Linked DNA regions of Homo sapiens: all the other regions are linked to region 1. The links come from fine-mapping of genetic effects on gene expression. A gene starts in region 1. Each other region holds a variant in brackets. All regions are shown on one strand. Distances are between the middles of the regions. Region 1 holds the start of ASCC2 (activating signal cointegrator 1 complex subunit 2). Region 2 overlaps ASCC2 (activating signal cointegrator 1 complex subunit 2). Region 3 overlaps ASCC2 (activating signal cointegrator 1 complex subunit 2). Region 4 overlaps MTMR3 (myotubularin related protein 3).

Region 1 (5,259 bases):
GGCGGAAGGATCACTTGAGCCCAGGAGATCAAGGCTGCAGTAAGCCATGATGGCACCACTGCACTCCATCCTAGGTGACAGAGCAAGACCCTGTCCCAAAATTTAAAAAAAAAAAAAAAATTTTTTTTCTTTAAAAGAAATTCACTCCTACAAACCATTGCCTGCCAGGGCAATTCAGGGCTAGCCTGGTGTGGTGGTAGGGAGAGAGCGCTACAGTCCTACAGCCTGGATTCAAGTCCTGGCTCCACCTTTTCCTATCCATGTTGAGACCTTGAGACAGTTCCCTAACCTCTCTAACTTTTGATTGCCTCTTCTGTAATACCAGAATTGTAATAGTACATAAACTCGTAGGGTTGCTATGAGAAGTAATCAATGTGAAGTGTTCAACCCAATACCTGGCACATAATAAGCACTCAATAAAGTTTAGTTGTTGTTATTATTCAAGTCCCAACCAGAGGCAAGACACTTTGGGCTTCCTGGTTTATTCAGCAAACAATTCCTGAATACAATCTGGGTCCTAGGCATATAACTGACTATGATTTGGCATTAAAGCTGTAACAGGAAATGTCCAAAACTACAGTATAGTAGAGAAAGGAAGGATATTACAAAGAAGGTGATCTATAACCTGGATGTTGAAGGATGGGGGAAAAGGTGACATTCCAAGCAGAGAGCAAGCATGAACAAAGGCTCAGAGTCTTAAAATGTGTGGCTTTGGGTCGGGTGAGGTGGCTTCCGCCTGCAATCAGCACTTTGGGAAGCCACGGAAGGAGAATTGCTTGAGCCCAGGAGATTGAGGTTGCAATGAGCCATGATACGTCACTGAACTCCAGCCTAGGGGACACAGTGAGACCCTGTCTAAAAAGTGTGGCTTTGAAGGAAGAGGGAGACATTTGGTGTTACTGAAAACACAGGTCAGATAGGGGATGACAGAAGTGAAGAGAGAAGAGAAGCTGGATAGGGAAGACAGGACCAGTTTAAAAAGAGCCTCAAAATAGCTTGAACCCGGGAGGCGAAGGTTGCAGTGAGCCGAGATCACGCCATTGCACTCCAGCCTGGGCGACAGAGCGAGACTCCATCTCAAAAAAAAAAAAAAAAAAAAAAAGCCTCAATGCTACACTAAAGATTTTAGTATTTCACCTGAAGGCAGTGAGGAGTCATTTAAGTATGAGACAGACATGACCAGAAAGAGATGATGATAACCTGGTGGCAGAAAAGACCTTTAATAAACCACGAGAGAGCAAACAGTACGTTAATCATTTCATTCATTCCTTTTTTTTTGAGATGGAGTCTCACTCTGTCACCCAGGCTAGAGTGCAGAGGAACGATCTCGGCTCACTGCCACCTCTGTCTCCCGGGTTCAAGAGATTCTCCTGCCTCAGCCTCCCGAGTAGCTGGGAATACAGGCATACGCCTGGCTAATTTTTGTATTTTTAGTAGAGAGAGGGTTTTGCCATGCTGGCCAGGCTGGTCTGGAACTCCTGACCTCAGGTGATCCGCCCGCCTTGGCTTCCCAAAATGCTGGGATTACAGGCATGAGTCACTGCCCGGCCATTCAAATATTTTTGAACACCTATTATGTGGCAGGCACTGATGCCCAGAGAATATTAAGGTGGGCAAATAACAAACCTGCTCCTGCCCTTCACAGAGCTTACAGTCATAATGGGGAAAGACAGATACTTTTCCAATTAGCCATACAAACAAATAAAAACCAATACCATGATGTAGCTATGTAGATAAGGCTCATGAAGCTGTGGCAGCATTTAAAAGAGAGACCTGGCTTGAGGAAGAAGTGATGTCAAGGAAGACCTGAGTTTTTGTCTAAAGCACGGGTACAAATTAAGTAGGCAGGGCTGGGCGCGATGGCTCACGCCTGTAATCCCAGCGCTTTGGGAGGCCAAGGCGGGCGGATCACGAGGCCAGGAGATCGAGACCATCCTGGCTAGCAAGGTGAAACCCCGTCTCTACCGAAAAAAAAAAAAAAAATTAGCAGGGCGTGGTGGTGCATGCCTGTAATCCTAGCTACTCAGGAGGCTGAGGCAGGAGAATCGCTTGAACCCGGGAGGCGGAGGTTGCAGTGGGACGAGATCACGCCACTGCACTCCAGCCTGGGCGACAGAGCAAGACCCCGTCTTGGGGGGAAAAAATAAATTAACTGGACAATCTGAACTTTGAGCTCCAAAAGGACAAACAATAATCATGACTATGTCTGTGCCCACCACTGTATTCCCCTGCCAGGCAGGACAGCAAAAGCCAAAAGCTAAGAAAGGGAGGGGGAGCTCCCTACAAGCACCCAATTGCAATATGGCCTGGGAGCATCCCCGGGGCTACTGCTCCCTCAGCCTCTTTGTCATCATTCCTCTAGTCTCTCAATTAAATACTACTCTCCTCAGAGACCTTCTGATGGCTCTGCCTATAGTATCCACTCTCCCAGTTACTGTCATAGCTTTAATGACCTTGTGCATTTGCTTGTCGTTGACCATCTCCTCCCACTAGACTGTAAGCTCCATGAGGGCAGAAGCCTTGTCTGTCTTGCTTTCTTTGTATCCCCAATGTCTAGATCTGTGTCTGGCACATAGGAAGCACTCCACAAATATTTGCTGAACGAATGAATGAACCCTGAGGAAACTGAAGCCCCGGGTGTGAGGACGTGGGGGGATCGTGGCTGGTCCAACGCCACTCTGGGGCCGAACTTCGAACCCGTGGCTCCTGACCCTGGCGGCCAAGTCTCGAGAGGCGGCTCACAACCCCTCAGGTAGCGTAAGCGTGGGCCCCGCAATGGAGGCCAGAGGATGGGAGAGCCAAGGCTGCCCAAGGCATAGCCGCGGCTCCTCCGGGGTCCCTTGCCCTGCATCTGGCAGGGACCAGCCACGCACTCACCTCGGCGGCTCCACCACCGGCTCTGTGCCGCCGCCGCCGCCGCCGCCGCCGACCACGGTGACAGCTCCCTGAGCGCCCGCACTTCCGGGGTCAAACTGCGATTCCGCAGGAGCAGACAGGAAGTCTCGGCCTGGCCCCGCCCCCAGAGCCGAGCAAACTACCGCCGGGAAGCCGGACCCGGGTTGCGCCTCTCTTCTTAAGACTCCGCCCCACACTCGGCGTCTGTAGCCACGCCCCCTTCCCCTCCTATCTCCCTTCCTGCTTAAGCAGAGAATAGGTCAGCTGAGGGCGGGCTGTGTGATTACACCTCTCGGGAAATCCAAGTATGGCACCTGAGAGGACGTCTCGGAATCCCAGGCTTCCACCTTCTGCCCGACCTCCTTAGTCACCGTTTTACATATTTAATCCAGAAGAGAAATTTTAACAAGTCAAAAGCACGAACATAATGTTAAGCAGATGTACAAGTACAGACTGCGATTTCATTTACGGGAAATTCTAGAACAGACAGAACTCATGAGTAGTGATGGTGTTAAAATTGGTGGTTTCCTCTGGGGCTGTGGGCTGGGAGGGGCCACAAGTGAGGCTGGGGTCACCCCCTGTCTTCATCTCGGTGGTAGCCATGTAGATGTGTTCACTTTGGAAAATTCATCAAATTGTACGCTTAAGATTTGTGCATTTTTCTGTATGTATGCAATACAGTTTTGTTCTGTTTTGTTTAAGGAAGTTACAAGTATAGCTATCCTAAGAGAAGGATGCAATTTTTTCTACAGAATGTCTCAGGTAATGTAGGTTTAGTGGTTCCTAAGCCTGACTATGGATCAGAATCATCACAGAAAACTTGTTAAGAACACACATTCCTGGCTTCATCTCAGTGCCTGGTACACAGTAAGAATTCAAAACCAACCACCATCATTATTGGGGTGTTATAGAAGCCCCCGAATGGAGAACACAACCCCACCCTGGGATTGTGAAATATTTCCCAGGACACTCCTGCCAACCCCTGCTATCTGCACTAGGGCTACAAGGAATGCTTAGTTCAGTGCCTGTCTTCAAGGGGCTTACAGGATAGGAAGTGCAAGAAAACCAATAGCAATGAGTCAGTGTGATGAATGCAGGGTGCTAAGGAAATAGGAGAGATGGGCTGTAAACCAGAAATGAGATGAGAGGGGCTGGATATTATATTAGTTTTGTATTGCTGCATAACATATTACCACAAACTTATAACAACACACTGCTTGCCACTTATAACAAACACATTTATTTATTTATTTATTTTGAGACAGAGTCTCACTCTGTCACCAGGCTGGAGTGCAGTGGTGTGATCTTGGCTCACTGTAACCTCTGCCTCCCGGAGGTTACAGTGGGTTCAAGCGATTCTCCTGCCTCAGCCTCCCAAGTAGGCAGGACTACAGGCATGAGCCACCAGGCCCAGCTAATTTTTGTATTTTTAGTAGAGACGGAGTTTCACCATGTTGGCCAGGATGGTCTCGATCTCTTGACGTCGTGATCCGCCTGCCTCAGCCTTCCAAAGTGCTGGGGTTACAGGCGTGAGCCACCACACCTGGCCAACAAACATATTTATTATCTCACATTTTCTGTGGGCCAGGAATCTGAGGATGGCATAGCTGGCTCCTCTGCATCAGGGTCACCCACAAGACTGCAATCAAGATATCGGCCAGGGCTGGAGTCTCATTTAAAGGCTCAACTCAAAAAGGATCTGCTTCCCATGTCTAGTGGCTAAATTCAGTTCCTTAATGGTTGTTGGACTAAGGGTCTCAGTTCCTAGCTGGATTTTGGCTAAAGGCTTGTCACGTAGGCTTCTCCAGTGTAGCAGCCTGCTTCATCAAAGCATGCAAGCCTAAAAGTTAATAGGGAAGCCAAGAGTGGTGGCACATGCTTATGGTTCCAGCAGGTTGGGAGGCTGAAGCAGGAGGATTGTTTGCGCCTAGGAGTTCAAATTGAGCCTGAGCAACATAGCAAGACCCAGTCTCTAAAAATTAAAAATAAATAAATAAATAAAAGAAGGCAATAGGGGCCGGGCACCGTGGCTCATGCCTATAATCCCAACACTTCGGGGGGCTAAGGTGGGAAGATTGCTTGAGCCCAGAAGTCTGAGGCCATCTTAGGCAACATAGCGAGACTTCGTCTCTACAAAAAAAAATTTAAAATTAGCCAGGCATGCTGGTGCATGCCTGTAGTCCCAGCTACTTAGGAGGTCGAGGCAGGAGAATTGCTTGAGCCCAGGAGTTCGAGGCTGCAGTTAGCTGTGATCACACCACTGCACTCCAGCCTGCACAACAGAGCAAGACCCTGTCTCAAACAAACAAAAGGAGGCAATAGGAGATTCTACTAAGAAGAGAGAAATTACAACCTCATGTAACC
Region 2 (5,000 bases), 40 kb before region 1:
TTATTCGTTTATTGTTTTTTCAAAAATGACCTTTCCTTGCCAACAAACAAAAATTTAAGAAGCAGTAAGGCCACATGTGGCTTTCTGACTGAGCTCAAGGGAGCCATAGGGATATCTGGGGTATAAGAAAAGGGGGTTCCCAGTCCTCTTCCTATCACCCCCACCTCACTACAGCAGCCTTCTGTCTCTTCCACAGCTCAAGTTTCCATGTAAAATTTCACTGGAAGAAAATGTTTGGAAGCCCAACTCTGGTCACGTTACAGGTGAGGAAACTCGGGTGCATTGGGTGGGAGAAGGAACATGTTTGGGTCACAAGTGAGCTGCAGCACAGCTTCGGCAGGGACTGAGGCTTCTCAACTCACGGCTTTGCAAACCTGTGAAAAAACCTGGCTTGTCAGAAACATACCCAGGCCTGTGGAATGTAGCTTCTAGCCCTGCAGGGGAAAATCAATATGAGATGCCAGGCAAGAAAATCCAGCTTAGCTGTGAAATCGGGTCTCTGGAATGTATCAAGGGTAAGATAATAAAAAAAAAAAGAAAAGACACAAAGCCAAACAGAGCTTCCATAAAAATCTTCTATTAACTGGCTTTTGGTGCAGGGAGAGGCAGGCGTCTGAGTCCATCTCAGTCTGTCAGGCTATCTGCCTGGCAGCCAGGGCAGGTCAGGACTGCAGCCTTCAGCATGGCGGGCTAGGGTTTGCCTCCCTTCACATCTTTTTTTTTTTTGAGACGGACTCTTGCTCTGTTGCCCAGGCTGGAGTGCAGTGGCGTGATCTCAGCTCACTGCAACCTCCACCAGCCGGGTTCAAGCGATTCTCCTGCCTTAGCCTCCCCAGTAGCTGGGACTACACGTGTGTGCCACCAAGCCCAGCTAATTTTTTGTATTTTTTTTTAGTAGTCTTTATTAAGGACCTTCTCTGTGCCGGGCAGGGTATGAGGCTGAGTTGGGGAGAGATTCAGAAATGAAGAAGATAGAGATCTGCCCTCATGAACTCAGTGTAGTGGAGATGACAGACCAGTCAACACGAAATGTGCTGAACGGAAGCCCTGGAAACAAAGGGAATGAACTTGGTTCAGGAGGTCTGGCTGGGCATCTGTAGGAAGGGGTAATGGAGGCTCCACGGTAGGGGGTTACTTGATTGGACCAGGAGCCCCAAGGTATGGCAGGAGGGATGGTGCACTTGATTTAGACCAGGGAGAAATCTCAGTTCAAAGAAATCTTTCACATCCACCAGGGAAGGGGCCTGTGACTGTGACCTTGGCCCTGTACCTGGCTTTCTATGCTAAGCTGAAAAAGAGGTAGAGAGGAAGAAAAAGGAGCCCAAGCTTGTTCAGGTGGTAGGTGCCACTGGTAGGAGCACACCCATGCATTTGACACATATTTCCTAAGGGCCTAATAGGTTCCAGGACCTGTGCTGGGCCAGGAGACTGAGGAAGAATGAGAGGCATCACCATCCTTTCTGCTACACCTTCGGCTTCTGGTCCATCCCATCCCTGGTTCTGTGCAGTGGGGCAGTTCTTTCATGCTGTGTGGCCTCTGGTTATGTGGCTCCCTGGCAGGGCCAGGCAGAGAAGCATGGCAAGCTCCACCCACCCTAGCTATGCCCTGGAAGAAGACACAGGTAGGGACAGTGAAGCCCGGGCACCTGGGCAGCTTGTCCAGGGAGATGCAACCTTGGCCCCAGACCTCATTTGGAGCCAGAAAGGAAAAAGAAAAATCAGGACCAAAGCCAGCTGGGAAAAGATGCATCAGAGGCCAGAACTTCAGTCAAGCCTGGAAACACAGGCAATGGTGGCTGCAGAGACCCTCTGGAGCAGGTAGCTTCCTCAGCCTCCAAGATGGGAGCAAGCCCTGGGAATATGCAGGTGCCCCTGAAACCTCGCCACCTTTCCCTTCCTCATCTCCTCAAGCCTGTCCTTCAAGGCCCAATTCAAACTGGTCCTTAGCAGGGTGACTCCTGCCTTTGAACTTCTAAAGAGCCTGTGGAAGCAACAGACTCCTACTTTTCCAGGTGAAGAATCAGGGGATCCAGAGAGGCAGAGCAACCCTCTTAAGGTCACACAGCTACTAAGAGCAAAGCCAGGGCCAGACACAGGTCTCCTGATTCAGGTCTGCTTTGCCACTTCCTGGGCTGTGTGACCACAGGCAAGTCCCTTAACCTCGCTAAGTCTCAGTTCCTTCTCTTGGCACCCACTTCCCAGGGCTGA[T/C]GTGAGAAAGAAATGACATGTCGAAGCAGATCCAGCACTTTCTGGGCTCAACAAAGTGAATCCTGTTTCTTTTACTACAGGACTTTTCAGAGCCTTAATGTGCTCTGCGACTCCCCAAAAGGCAGACCAAGGGCACAGACACTTAAAATAAAATTTTAATTATTATTATTTTTTGAGACAGGGTTTCACTCTTGTTGCCCAGGATGGCGTGCAATGGTGTGATCCTGGCTCACTGCAACCTCCACCTCCCAGGTTCAAATGATTCTCCTGCCTCAGCCTCCCGAGTAACTGAGATTACAGATGCCTGCCACCATGCCCAGCTAGTTTTTTGTATTTTTAGTAGAGATGGGGTTTCACCATGTTGGCCAGGTTGGTTTTGAACTCCTGACCTCAGGTGATCCACCCACCTTGGCCTCCCAAAGTGCAGGGATTACAGCCACCACGCCCAGCCGGCACAGATATTTTTAGAACACATGTTGTCTTCCAGGGCACCATGGAATGGTCCAAAGGGATTAGGGGACCCTGCCTCTTGCCCACTGACTCCTTCACTGGCTATGATATACCTGTAGCACATGTATTGATGTCTCCACAACAGCCATGCTGCACCTCACCCATTCTCCAAACAGACCCTACATTTTCTTTAGGTCTTTCTACCTTTCCGTTTCACCCTGGAGCTCCAGGCCTGCACCCTGTGAGTTGGTTTTCCTGATGAGATATGAGGGGTATTGGAGACTTCTGGGAAAGGTATCCTAGGCTCTAGGAGAGACACAGGAAGACCTGGTCTGGACTATCTCCTGGCACTGTCATGTCTGGAAGCCATAGTAGAAACAGCTGCAGCCCCTCTGCAGCCTCAAAGGAAGTAGCCTGACCACGAAGTGAGGCCCCAAGAGACTGGAAAGATACATTCTGGATGATAGGTCAACCAAGCCTAGACGGCCCTACCTTACACCGCCTTGTCATGCAAGGGAACAGATTTCCTTACTACTTAAGCACTGAGTACAGCCTATCTGATTCAACAACGAACACATTTTAACTCCACTACCATCTGCAGCGTCCTACCTAATTTCTCATGGGATTAGGACATGTGTCCCTGCCGAAGTTCCTGTGTACCCCACCCCAGCACCTCCCACTCTGTCCTTACTTGTTTAATGGTCTTTCTTATGATCATTTGAGGGCAAGGCCGGGTATCCAGCTCACCCTGTTTCCCTGGTGTCTAGCATAGGATCTGGTGCTACTAAATCTCTTAATAAATATTTGCTGAATGAATAAATAATGAACACATGAATGGAGGCTTTGCCTCTTTGCAATCTGCAGCCCCTGGGCTACCCAGCACAGTGAGTCTCTCTGCGTGCCAGCCCAGAGGGCCCCAGGAACAAGGGCACAGTGTTCCAGAAACCTGGCCACCTCAATGCCAGCCACTCTGCTGACCCTGACAGCTGGGACCAGCCCCTTGGCAAATGCTCGTAGGTGACTTATGACCTAGGTGGGGTGAGATGAGACTTTACAATACCATGGGCCCTGGACAAAACCACAGATCAAGGTGAAAGGCCATATCCAGAGATGGCTAATCTCTGTGGGGAACTTACCAATCAGGCTTCCTGGATTGGAGCAGGGGGCCAGGCTTCTCGCCAGCCTGGAGGACCCCTTGTCTGCCCCTTGCCCACCGCTGGAGCTACAGAGGGCCATGCTGGCCTGGAATAGCGGCCACTGATCCAGGATAACATCTTTGGCCTGGGATCTGGGGGTGTTGCAATGTGTATGACTAAGCAGTTTGCAAGTGCTTCCTGTCCAGCCAGCCAGACGGCTTTGTAGTTGCCCTGCGCCAGTTCCCCAAGCCCTCAGCCAGCCAAGCTTTTAGCAGTGGACAGCCCTAGGGAGGGGTAACAGCACAGGGCCCTAACTGAAGAAGCAGCTGGCATTTCCGCCACTGGGGCTCCTACCACAGGAACAAGGCTGGCTGGTCTCCTCCCTCTCTGAACCTCACGGTCCCCATTCACGTGATGGTGAAAGAGCAGCCTGTACTTGTAAAGAAGTCCCCTGATTTCTAGATTCCATGCAGAACTTTGGGGGACTAGAATACATCTTATTTTGCTGTTCTCTACTTGGATGTTGTACTCTTTACCATGACATCCAACTCTCTGTCCCTCTGATGGGTCATCATTCCAACGCTGGGTGAACTCTCTTATTTTTTTTTCTTGAGACAGGTTCTTACTGTGTCACCCAGGCTGGAGTACAGTGGCACGATCACAGCTCATTGCAGCCTTGACCTCCTGGGCTTAAGTGATCTTACTGCCTCAGCCTCCAGAGTAGCTGGAACTATAGGCGTGTGCCAGCACACCCGGCTAATTTTTGTATTTTTTGTATATATGGGGTTTCGCTATGTTGCCCAGGCTGGTCTCGAACTCCTGGACTCAAGTGATCCACCTGCCTTGGCCTCCCAAAGTGCTGGGACTAGGCATGAGCCGCTGCACCCAGCCCTGATCTTTTCAAAACATAAAATATGCTGGCTTTGTCGGTTCATGGGACCCTTTGCTGTGCTCACTATGGCCTCGGGACCACTGTCCCTGTTGCTCTGCTTGGGAAGCTTCTCCTTCCCTCCTTTGCAGAAGTGACCCCTCCTCACCCTTTAGCTCTCGGTCCCATGTCATGTTCTCAGAGGAGCCTTCTTGACTGGGGTGAAGCCCTACCAAAGGCTCAGAATTCTGTGCACCTCCAGCTTGTAGTATTTGTTATACCTGCAATTTGATGTTGCTTGTTTGATGAGTTGATTAATGCAAACTCCACGTGGGCAG
Region 3 (5,000 bases), 34 kb before region 1:
GCTCAACAACCCTGTGTTACATCCCTGAAGACACATCCATGGCGCTCTAATCAGCCTTCCCACAAAGTGTGGCAGGGATGTGTACACTCTCTGCCCTGCCTGGGGCAAGTGAAAAACTCCTGCGGGGCCTAAGGTTTTTATGTTTCCCCAAAGAGGGCTTTAGTTTAAATGGCTGGGAAGAGAGAACAAGCTGAGTCCTGGGCCATGAATGAGGGAAGGAAGAGAGGAAGGGGCCCCACCCCGAGGCAGCCTGGGCAGCGGGAGCCTCCTCCCACCTGTCTCTCCCACCTGTCTAGGTTGCGGTCCAGCTGGCTGAGGGTGGGGGCCAGCCGCTCCTCCAGGATATTGTTGATCACCTGCTCTGGGTCGTAGTGGTAGTACTCCAGGCAGGCCAGGATGAAGCCCTCACCAAGGTCTGGCAGCAGGTCCTTCACTTGGGAGATGAGAGAGTCCAGTTCCACCCCACACATGGCAGGGCCCACAGCCGCGGCTGCTCCCATGCACTGTAGTGAGAGCCAGAGCCAAGAAGGGGAAGGCTAAGTGGGCCGGTGATAGGGCCACAGGCCCCAGACAGCACTGGACTAGGCATCAGGGATCTGGTTCAAGTCCTGGGATTACCCCTCCTGCCTGTGGGAACTTTGTCAAGTGACTCAAGTCTCTCTGAGCCTCCATTTCCTTCTCTGTGAAAAAGGGGGCTCGTGATTGTTATGATTATTGCATGCCTGTATCAAAATATCTCATGTAACCTATAAATATATACACCTACTACATATCCAGGAAAATAAACAAAAAAAAAAAATAAAAAAAATTTAAGGCCGGGTACAGTGGCTCATACCTATAATCCCAGCACTTTGGGAGGCTGAGGCAAGAGAATTACTTGAGCTCAGGAGTTAGACCAGCCTGAGCAACACAGCAAGACCCCATCTGTTCAAAAAATTTAAAAAAGTAGCCAGGTGGCCGGGTGTGGTGGCTCATGCCTGTAATCCTAGCACTTTGGGAGGCCGAGACGGGTGGACTGCCTGAGCTCAGGAGTTTGAGACCAGCCTGGGCAACACAGTGAAACCCTGTCTCTACTAAAAAAATTAGCCAGGCGTGGTGGCATGCGCCTGTGGTCCCAGCTACTTAGGAGGCTGAGGTGGGAGGATTACTTGATCCCAGAAGGTCGAGGCTGCAGTGAGCTTGATCAAGCCACTGCACTCCAGCCTGGGTGACAGAGCAAGACCCTGTCTCAAAAAATAAAAAATAAAATAAAATAAATTAGGCCAGGCATGGTGCTCATGCCTATAATCCCAGCACTTTGGGAGGCTGAGGCAGGTGGATCATCTGAGGTCAGGAGTTTGAGACCAGCCTGACCAACATGGTGAAACCCCATCTCTGCTAAAAAAAATACAAAAAATTAGCTGGGTGTGGTGGTGGGTGTCTGCAATCCCAGTTACTCAGGAGGCTGACACAGGAGAATCGCTTGATCCCAGGAGGCAGAGGTTGCAGTAAGCAGAGATCGCACTATTGCACTCCAGCCTGGGCAATAAGAGTAAAACTCCATCTCCAAAAAAAAAACAAAAAACAAACAAACAAAAACAAATAAATAATTATATTAAATTAAATTAAATTAAAATTTTGAAGGGACTGTATGACTTACCAGCTGGGCTACTGGCTGTGTGACTTTGGGCAGGATGCTTCCCCTCTCTGAACCTCAGTTTCCTCCTTATAAAATGGGCCTATACCACCCACCTCATGGGGTTGTTTCAAATAGTTCAAAGATGGCACAAAACCCAGTGAGCACAGTACTTGGCACAGACCAGGCCCTCCATAAACAGCCCTGGTTTCTACCAATTCTTCCTACTAATCCAAGGTCCTTTTCCAACAAGTTTACTGACGGTGGAGGCGAACATCAACCACCAGAGCTGGACTGTGTGGAGATGCTCCCCTTTAATTACAATCTCTTTTTTAAGTAAGGGGCATGCATTTTATATATTGCTCAATGTGACTTAATTGTGTTAGCCTTTTAATTTAAGGAAATTTACAGATCACAACAATAAAACCTCCATGACTCTGCTAAGAAGCGAAATGGGGAAGAAGGTGGGAAAAGGTGAAGGAGGCCATTGTTCTCCAAGGCCCTGCAGGAATCACAGGGTCTGGGCTGGGAGGAAGGACTGTGGCATTTGTTAATGGAGCACTGAAGGCCAGTCAGGCTCAGGGTATTCCATGTGATAGCTCTGGGAATCCCAACACCTCATGGAGGTGGGCACTACATCTGTCCCCACCTTATAGATGAGGAACCAAGGTTCAACGTGAGTGACGTGCCTAAGGCCATACAGCTGCCAAGTGGCAGAACCAGGTCACACCCCTGAGCTGCCTCGCCTGAGTCTGTGTGGTCTTCATCTCTCTTATCATGCTGCCTCCCAACATGCAGGGGAGAGTCCTGGCCTTGGTGGCCAATCAAGACAGCCACAGATTCGGCCAGTCCTGGAAAAGCCTGGAGAGAAGGCACCAGATCCGAGGTTTCTACACTTGTTCAGTGGAATCCTGGAGCCCCACGGAGGGGCTTCCAAGAAGGCCAAACCATGGGACTTGGCACTGTTCCCAGTTGCAACCAAAGGAGCTCCACTTTTATCTATTTAGAGGAGAGCTCCGGGAAGGGCTCATGGAAACGTTCATGGAAAGTTTCGTCTCTTCATTTTATAGAGGGGAAGCTAAGGCTTCG[A/G]TAGTTGAAGCAACTTGCTCTCTCCTCACACACAGTCCAGCATGCCCCCAGCTTGGGACCCTCTAAAGGCAGCACAGAGCTGACCAGTTGCTTGAGGCTGTCTATTCCCCAAAAAAACTTTTTCCCTGAGTATAAAAGCAAAGAAGGGAGGTTTCCTGCTGCCCCAGCCTCTCAGATAGGGCCAAGGAGGGACAAGCGAAGAGGGAAAAGCGCCACTCAGACACATACCTCCTCTTCCTCCGAGTTCTCCGGATGTGATGATGCTTGACTGACTGCCTCTGCTGTCACCGTGACCCCGTTAGGCTCCCCATTAGGCTCCTCAATCACCGATGGGTCTTTAGCATCTGTGGCTTTCCGTCTGTCCACCCCTTCCCATGCACTCTCGACTGCCTGGAGGATGTAGGCAGTCCGCGTCTCGTCCCTGTGAGGACTTGTTAAGGGGTCTGTCTTAAGCTCCTAGCTCTGAAGCAGCATAATTTCTCAGTCCCTCCCCAGCATCTGACCACATGGTTCCTGCCAGGGGCTTTCTGGGCTATATCTAAGTGGTATAGCCCACGGGCACCTGGGCTGCATGGAAAAATGGGCCAGACTACAGCCACTCTGGCCTCACAACCTAGTGCCTTTCACTCAGCAGAAAGCAGCTCTGAGTAAAGACAGGGCCAGGGCTGCCATCAGAGTGTCCTGGGGCACAGGTATGGACGAGCCAGCAGCTCCTCTTTTGTACTGACTGCCAGGAGGAGGGCGTGGTAGGGCCACTGCCACTGGGCTTCCTGTCCAACCAGCTGAGGGCATTCTGCAAAGGCTGTGGGCCATCAGGTTTCCCTGAAGCAGGACTGAGCAATCTACTGCAACCACCAAAAATGACCCATAAGCTGGCTGCTCCTCCCTGTCCTTCCTCCTTGTTAACAACCCTGGGCACTGTCAAGCCAGAAATCTGAGAGTCCCCTTAGACTCCCTCACTGCTTCTTGTCCAAACCCTCATCATCCATGCTTGGATGCCAGCAACAGCCTCCTCACTGGCCCGAGCCTCACGGTGGTCCTGGGCCAGTCCATTCTCTTCCCTGGGCCAGACAGAGCTTTTCCAAAGTATAGAACTGCCCATGTCACTTCCTGCTTCACAACCTTCCGCGCTCCCCAGCGCTTGCAGGACAGAGCCCAAACTTCTTAGTGATGGTCACCCCAGGGCTGTGCACGTTGCTGGCCTTCACCTCACCTGCAACACCCCAATTCCTCCTCTTGGGAGACCCCTCCTTAAGGACTGCCCCCTGTACTCTATACACGTCTGTGGCTCTAAGGAGCCTGTTTTCTCTGTCCTCTGTCCACTGCGAACATTCTTGTCCTTGTCCTTGCTCCTGGCTTGGTGCTCTCCCATTCTTTCTGCTGTTCTTCTGCTTGGACATCATTTCCATCTGAGACCCCCACCCAGAGCTCTGCTGGGTGAGGCGCCACCTCTGGTTTCCTGCCCTCTGAAATCTTCCCACGTGACACTCTATCTAACTGCCTGTTTACTTGTCCACCTCCCCTCCTGCTGTGAGGAGGGGCTGAGTCCATCTTGGTCACATAGGCCCAGATACTCAGGAAACACAGACGGAAAATAGCACTGCATCTCCCCTGCCCCAAGCATCAGAGCAGCCATCTCCTCTAGAAAAGGCAAGGCTGGGACCTTGGCAGGCCACCTCGGACAGCTGGCTGACCCATGCGTTCTGGGGCTAAACCTCTTTCCACTCCTCTGGGTTCCAGCAGCCTGTCTCACCTCTGACCTAGTCAAGCTGGGCCCTGTCGTAGTGGGCTATGGTAGAAGGATACAAGACTGATGAGGCCTGCTGCAGCAAGCTGATGTCTTCGGCCACGGGGAAGAGTGCATCATAGTCCCGGAGGAACCTGCAGGCAGATGAGAGCAGATGGGATGGACAGAGCTGGGGCCACAGGAATGCTGTGCTGCTGCAGGCCACTCCCTGTGTTTGCAGCCCGACCTTATTAGAGCTGTGGTGGGCCTATAGCGGGGGTCTATCATGTAAGGCCTCTTGGGGACCTGTGGGAGGGTCATGGGCCCAGGCCAGCTCAGCCACACTCACCTCTTCTCCTGCAGCAAGGAGCTGAAGATCTGAAGGAACTCTTCGATGAAGCCCTGAATGTTGTCACAGCTAGAACAAGACACCAGGGAAGATGAGCTCATGCAATGCAAGATGAGCTGCAGCTCCTTTACACACCCGCTGCCCCTCTTTAAGGCTGGGGCCCAGTGGAGGAATGAGGCATTTTTCTTGGTTTCTCATCTCTGTTCAGCCAACCCCAGTGC
Region 4 (5,259 bases), 180 kb after region 1:
CTTGGGCCTCATCCTGAGACATGCTTTATAAACACACAGATTTTTTTGTTTTGGCAGTGTTATATTTGGAGAGAGAAATCTTTGGAAATTGCTTTTTCATTTGACAATCATTGAGCATGATGCAGTAAATCATAAAAAAATCAGCATTTTCTAATCCTCTCCTGTTTTTATAGTTGGCTATCAGCTCTTGAAAGCACAAAATGGCTCCATCACTTGTCTGTGCTTCTGAAATCAGCGCTTCTGGTAGTGCATGCTGTGGATCAGGATCAGCGGCCGGTGCTAGTACACTGCTCAGATGGCTGGGACCGCACCCCCCAGATTGTGGCATTGGCTAAGCTCTTGCTGGACCCTTATTACCGAACCATAGAGGTGAGCCCATCCAAATGGGAGGGGTTGGTACTTCAGGATGAGCCAGGGAAACGTCTCAGGAGTGATACCAGTTTTGGGAGTGGTGATTCGGTTAAAGAAAGTGAAATTTCTGTTTTGGTCATTGTTCCTTTATGCCATGAGCTAAATTGTGGTGGTTCCTCCCACAGTTCTTGCACCTCTTAAAATGGGGCAGATTATGGGTAACAAGGTATTGAGAATATAGACATATTTTCCTTTACAGTCTATCTACTTGTAAAAGTTTTTAGCTACCTCAGGAAAATAAGGAGTCTGTAAAAGGATCTTGGCATGCTAGATATTACCAGAGTGTTCTGTGGAGAAGCAGCTCTACCTGAAATAACCATCTGTTGGGTTAAAGATGAAAGAAAAATCATAAAGTACCCTAAAATATATGCAAGTATTAATTAAACTTGGGGTATAGAAGGATTTTACAGACTTGACTTTGTAACACCAGAGGCAGAAATGTTAAGAGAAATTTAGGGGAAAAGTGTGGTTTTTATATAGTGAACACAAGAGGCTAAAAATACACATTCAAGAAAGGCTTAGATAAACGCAGTCAGTACCATTTTAGTGATCATGGAATGGAGTTCAGGGAATTGGGAAATTTCCCTAAGTGTGTGCCTCATCAGGGATAGAGCCTTCCACCAAAGGGCAAGGCCGGGTGGGCTTTCTGGGAGGCTGTTAGAGGGGATTGCTTTCTGTGACACCAGGCTTAGGACTGTCACAGTCTGGATAGTCTAGCACAAATGGTCTCTCCTGGATGCTTCCCTGCAGGGTTTCCAGGTCCTCGTGGAAATGGAGTGGCTGGATTTTGGCCATAAATTTGCTGACCGGTGTGGTCATGGGGAGAACTCGGATGATCTGAATGAACGTTGCCCAGTGTTTCTGCAGTGGCTTGACTGTGTTCATCAGCTTCAGAGGCAATTTCCTTGCTCTTTTGAGTTCAATGAAGCATTCCTTGTAAGTTTCTTCATTTTGGGGACTTTCTCAATTTGAAGGAGGGTCAGTACAAATGTTAGTGGGCCAGTTCTCACATGAAACTGTGCTGCCTCTTCAGAATTTAATAGAGGTGATTTTTTTCCTGTTTCTGCTTTTTTTTTTAGTAAATAATTTTGCTATTTTCAAAAAGAGAAAATCCAGGTATACCAGGTTTGCATGAAGTCCTTGTGTTGTTTTAAACTTAGTTTTTTTTTAAAGGGATGGTAGAAACCCTAAATAGCAGTTAGAAATAGAAGCAATCAGAATGTCTGGACCATACTCCCTCCAGTCTGTCTACCAGACCCCCATGACTGTCTCAGACTCTGCACCCTCTCCTTTGATGGAGGGTACACTATCCCTGCCCTCTTTCAGCCCCTCTGTCCATTTGTATACCAGCTCTCATCTCCTCTCATCTGCTGCACTGGCTGGCTCCAGCATTTCTCTTCTCTGCCTTCTGCATCAGTGCGTTTCCCTCTCTACCAGAGCATGGGTTTCAGCTTAAAAATGTGTAGTGTCTCTCATCTTTTTAAAACCCATTCTTGGTCCTGCATTTACCTCTAGCTATCATCCTATTGCTCTTGTTCCCCTTTACAGCAGAGCTCCTCAAGTTTTCTACCCTTGCTATCTCAAATTTCTCTTTCCACTCTCTCTTAAACCCACTTCAATCAGGCATTCACCCCACTGCTTAACAAAGCTGCTCTTGTTAAAATGACCAGTGACCTTCATGCCACCAATCCAGTGAGAAGTTCTCAGTCTTCATCTCTTTGATCCATCATTACCATTTGGCACAGTTTAACCACTCCTTCCTTGAAATGCTTTCTTCAATTGACCTTCTAGTACTTCCTTGCAGTTGACTTCTAGTACTTCCTTGCTGTTAGTTCTCCTTTTACCTTACTGGATTGTTTCTGCCTCCTTTGCTGATTCCCCTTAATCCCTCCAGTT[CTTTTT/C]TTTTTTTTTTTTTTTTTTTCAGATAGTATCTTGCTGTGTCACCCAAGCTGGAGTGCAGCAGTGTGATCATAACTCACTGCATCCTCAAACTTCTGGGATCAAGAGATTCTCCCACCTCAGCCTCCCCAGTAGCTGGGACCACAGGCACATGCCAAGATGCCTGGCTAGTTTTTAAAAATTTTTTGTAAATAGACATGGAGTCTCGCTATGTTGCCCAGGCTGGTCTCAAACCTCCTGGCAAGTGATTCTCCCGCCTTGGTTGCCCAAAGAATTACAGGCGTAAGCTTCGACACCTAGCCTCCTCTCCCCAGTTCTAAATGTTGGAATGCCCCCTTGCTCAGCCTCCAGGCTGCTCCTCCATCCACACTTCCAAGTATTTCATCCATTCTAGTGGCTTTAATTGCCATCTGTATGCTGATGAGTCCCACATTTATACACCTTCAGCTTAGACCTCTCCACTTCAGACTCACGTATCTAAGTTACTACTAGGTATCTCCACTTGGCTGTCTTAATGTTGATTCAGACTTAATAAATTCAAAACTTGATGCTTCTTTTTGGAGACAGCATCTCACTCTGTCACCCAGGCTGGAGTACAGTGGCGCAAACACAGCCCACTGCAGCCTTGAACTCCCAGGGTCAAGTGATCTTCTCACCTTAGCCCCCTGAGTAGCTAGGACTGCAGGTGCGTACCACTGTGCCTGGCTGATGTTTTTAATTTTTTTTTTTTTTTTAAGAGATGGGGTCTTGCTTTGTTGCCCAGGCAGGTCTCAAACACCTGGGCTCAAACAATATCCTCCCACCCCGGCCTTCCAAAATGCTGGTATTAACAGGCATGAGTCACCATGCCTGTCCAAAACTTGATTCTTGATTCCTGTGTTTCCTCACTATAAAACTTGATCTTCCAGAAGTCTTCTCTCTCACCATATGGCATTTCCATCCCTCCTTTTGTTTGGGGCAAAATTCTTTGTCATCGTCAAGTCTCCTCCCTCCCTCCCTCCCTCCCTCCTTCCCTCCCTCCCTCTTCCACATTCAGTCAGATTCTGCAGCTCTGCTTTCGCAATCTATCTAAAACCTGGTTATTTATTGCCACCTTTACTGGTACCACACTGGTTCAAGCCACCATCATCTCCTGCCCCAATTGAGTTATCCCAGCATAGAGTCTCTTCTAAAACACAAGGCAGGCTGTGTCATTCCTTGGCTTAAAAACCTCTAGTTACATTTTACACAAAAGCCAAAGTTCTTAAAATGGTCTCCAGGGCCTTCCTAGAGGTTACCTCTCTAGGTTCATTTCCTACCATTCTCCCTCTTCTGCAATCTCCTTTAGTCACACTGGCCTCCTTGCTGTAGCTCAGAAATTGCAAGCATGTGCTTTACCTCAAAGCCATTGCACCTGTGGTTGCCTCTGCCTGGAGTGCTTCCCCTCAGATACCCACATGCCTGCTCTTTCAAGTCCACTGGGTCCCAGCCAGTGAGGCCATCCTGCACTGCCTCATATGTGTCCTGTCCATCTCAGTCTGCCTTGTTCTCCATAGCACTGGTCACTCTTCAGCTATGACTAGAGCAAGCTCCATCAGGGCAGAAGAATTTGCTGGTCATTGCTACATGCCCAGCACCTTAGTCATGTTTGGGCCATGTGAAATGCTCAATAATTTGTAGAATGAACAAGTAGTTTTACAAACATACTGTCAGCTCAGACTTGAGTTGTACACTGACGTGCTCCTGCACCCAGTTCATATGCTGTGGCGCTTGTGAGAGTGGCTGTTAATTCACAATCTCAGACTATTTATCACGGAAGCTAAGAGGAATAGGGGCACCAACAACCTGTCTGACTCAGGTTGTTGGGTCCTGGAATTGGTGGTGTGAGGAGGAGGAGGCTACTGCATGGCTTACTGGGTTCCCCGTCCTGACAGAGTAAATTGAAGTGTTCTCAGGGATGTTAGGATAAGGTGGCTCAGCTGAGCTGACTTATCAGAGTGTGCATGCCTGATTGCTTAATTTGTGCTTCATTGGACTTCCATAGGTGAAACTGGTGCAGCATACCTATTCCTGCCTGTTTGGAACATTCCTGTGCAACAACGCCAAGGAGAGAGGGGAAAAGCATACTCAGGAACGGACATGTTCCGTGTGGTCACTTCTTCGGGCAGGCAACAAGGCTTTCAAAAACCTACTGTATTCCTCTCAGTCAGAAGCCGTATGTATCCTTCAGCCTTTCCACTGTGGTCAGCAGAAGGAATTTGGGGTTGGTTACATATGAGAGCCTTTTTGAGTAGTGACTGTTTTTGTGAAGACATCTCTACTGTCTCTGGATGGACTGGTTCCATTTTTCCCCCATGATTCTGTCCTGAGGAAGGCCTGCTTCTGATGGTGCTCTGATCTGTTTCTGATGACTACTTGCTGAGGGTGGTTTGGTTTAACACAGATCTCTACTTTGCCACCCTAGACATGAATCTTTTTTGGCACTGCCTCCAGAGCTTATTTCTAGCATATTCTGTCTTACGGGAGAGGCACTTAAGTTGCTTCCTGATGCACTGATAGCTCAGAATGAGCTGCCACCAGGCCCCCAGCACCCTCCCAGTGTCAATAAGCAATGATACCCACCAAAGCTTCTGTCTCAGAACAGTAAACTGTGTTTGACATTGGTATGTGTGTCTGTCTGATTCTCTGCTCACATGAAGAGCTGGCAGGCCCTTTAAGACTTTGTTCCCCGAAGGAATGAATACCTTCTGTTAAGCAGAGAAAAGGAGGCACATAGACCTATGTGTCAGTTTCATAGTAATACTAGCTTTGTCAGAATGCATCTTAGACCCTAAAGAAGTCAAAAGGAGGCTAATCAGAGTTCATACTGATTTCCTGGACTATTAATATGGTTCTCATTACATTTAAGTAATCACAGAAAAGATTTAAGCTGACTGCTTGTCTCTCCCCTTCAGTGTGCCTTCTGGGGAA

Evidence for each region. PIP is the estimated chance that this variant, and not a neighbour inherited with it, causes the effect. A credible set is the group of variants that fine-mapping cannot tell apart.
Region 2: its variant is the best candidate, but not a certain one, in a credible set for the expression of ASCC2 in macrophages (Alasoo 2018, PIP 0.65).
Region 3: its variant is the best candidate, but not a certain one, in a credible set for the expression of ASCC2 in whole blood (TOPMed, PIP 0.53).
Region 4: its variant is the best candidate, but not a certain one, in a credible set for the expression of ASCC2 in whole blood (INTERVAL, PIP 0.89).

What each region holds. Positions count from the first base shown.
Region 1 is chr22:29,835,301-29,840,559 of GRCh38, forward strand. It overlaps ASCC2 (activating signal cointegrator 1 complex subunit 2), which reads right to left and starts at 2,974. Exons shown (of 20, transcript NM_032204.5): 1 at 2,878-2,974. RefSeq lists an enhancer at 3,247-3,306.
Region 2 is chr22:29,795,401-29,800,400 of GRCh38, forward strand. The region is part of intron 15 of ASCC2 (activating signal cointegrator 1 complex subunit 2); the gene reads right to left. Among named protein-coding and RNA genes, the nearest start is that of UQCR10, 31 kb to the left of the region's middle. RefSeq lists enhancers at 3,289-3,789, 3,790-4,290. The variant T/C (reference allele first, on the strand shown) is at 2,209.
Region 3 is chr22:29,801,706-29,806,705 of GRCh38, forward strand. ASCC2 (activating signal cointegrator 1 complex subunit 2) reads right to left here. Exons shown (of 20, transcript NM_032204.5): 11 at 4,780-4,848; 12 at 4,511-4,585; 13 at 2,933-3,125; 14 at 289-503. Among named protein-coding and RNA genes, the nearest start is that of ASCC2, 34 kb to the right of the region's middle. The variant A/G (reference allele first, on the strand shown) is at 2,705.
Region 4 is chr22:30,012,195-30,017,453 of GRCh38, forward strand. It overlaps MTMR3 (myotubularin related protein 3), which reads left to right. Exons shown (of 20, transcript NM_021090.4): 13 at 174-369; 14 at 1,162-1,347; 15 at 4,334-4,504. The region is part of intron 4 of HORMAD2-AS1 (HORMAD2 and MTMR3 antisense RNA 1); the gene reads right to left. Among named protein-coding and RNA genes, the nearest start is that of MIR6818, 7.8 kb to the left of the region's middle. The variant CTTTTT/C (reference allele first, on the strand shown) is at 2,308.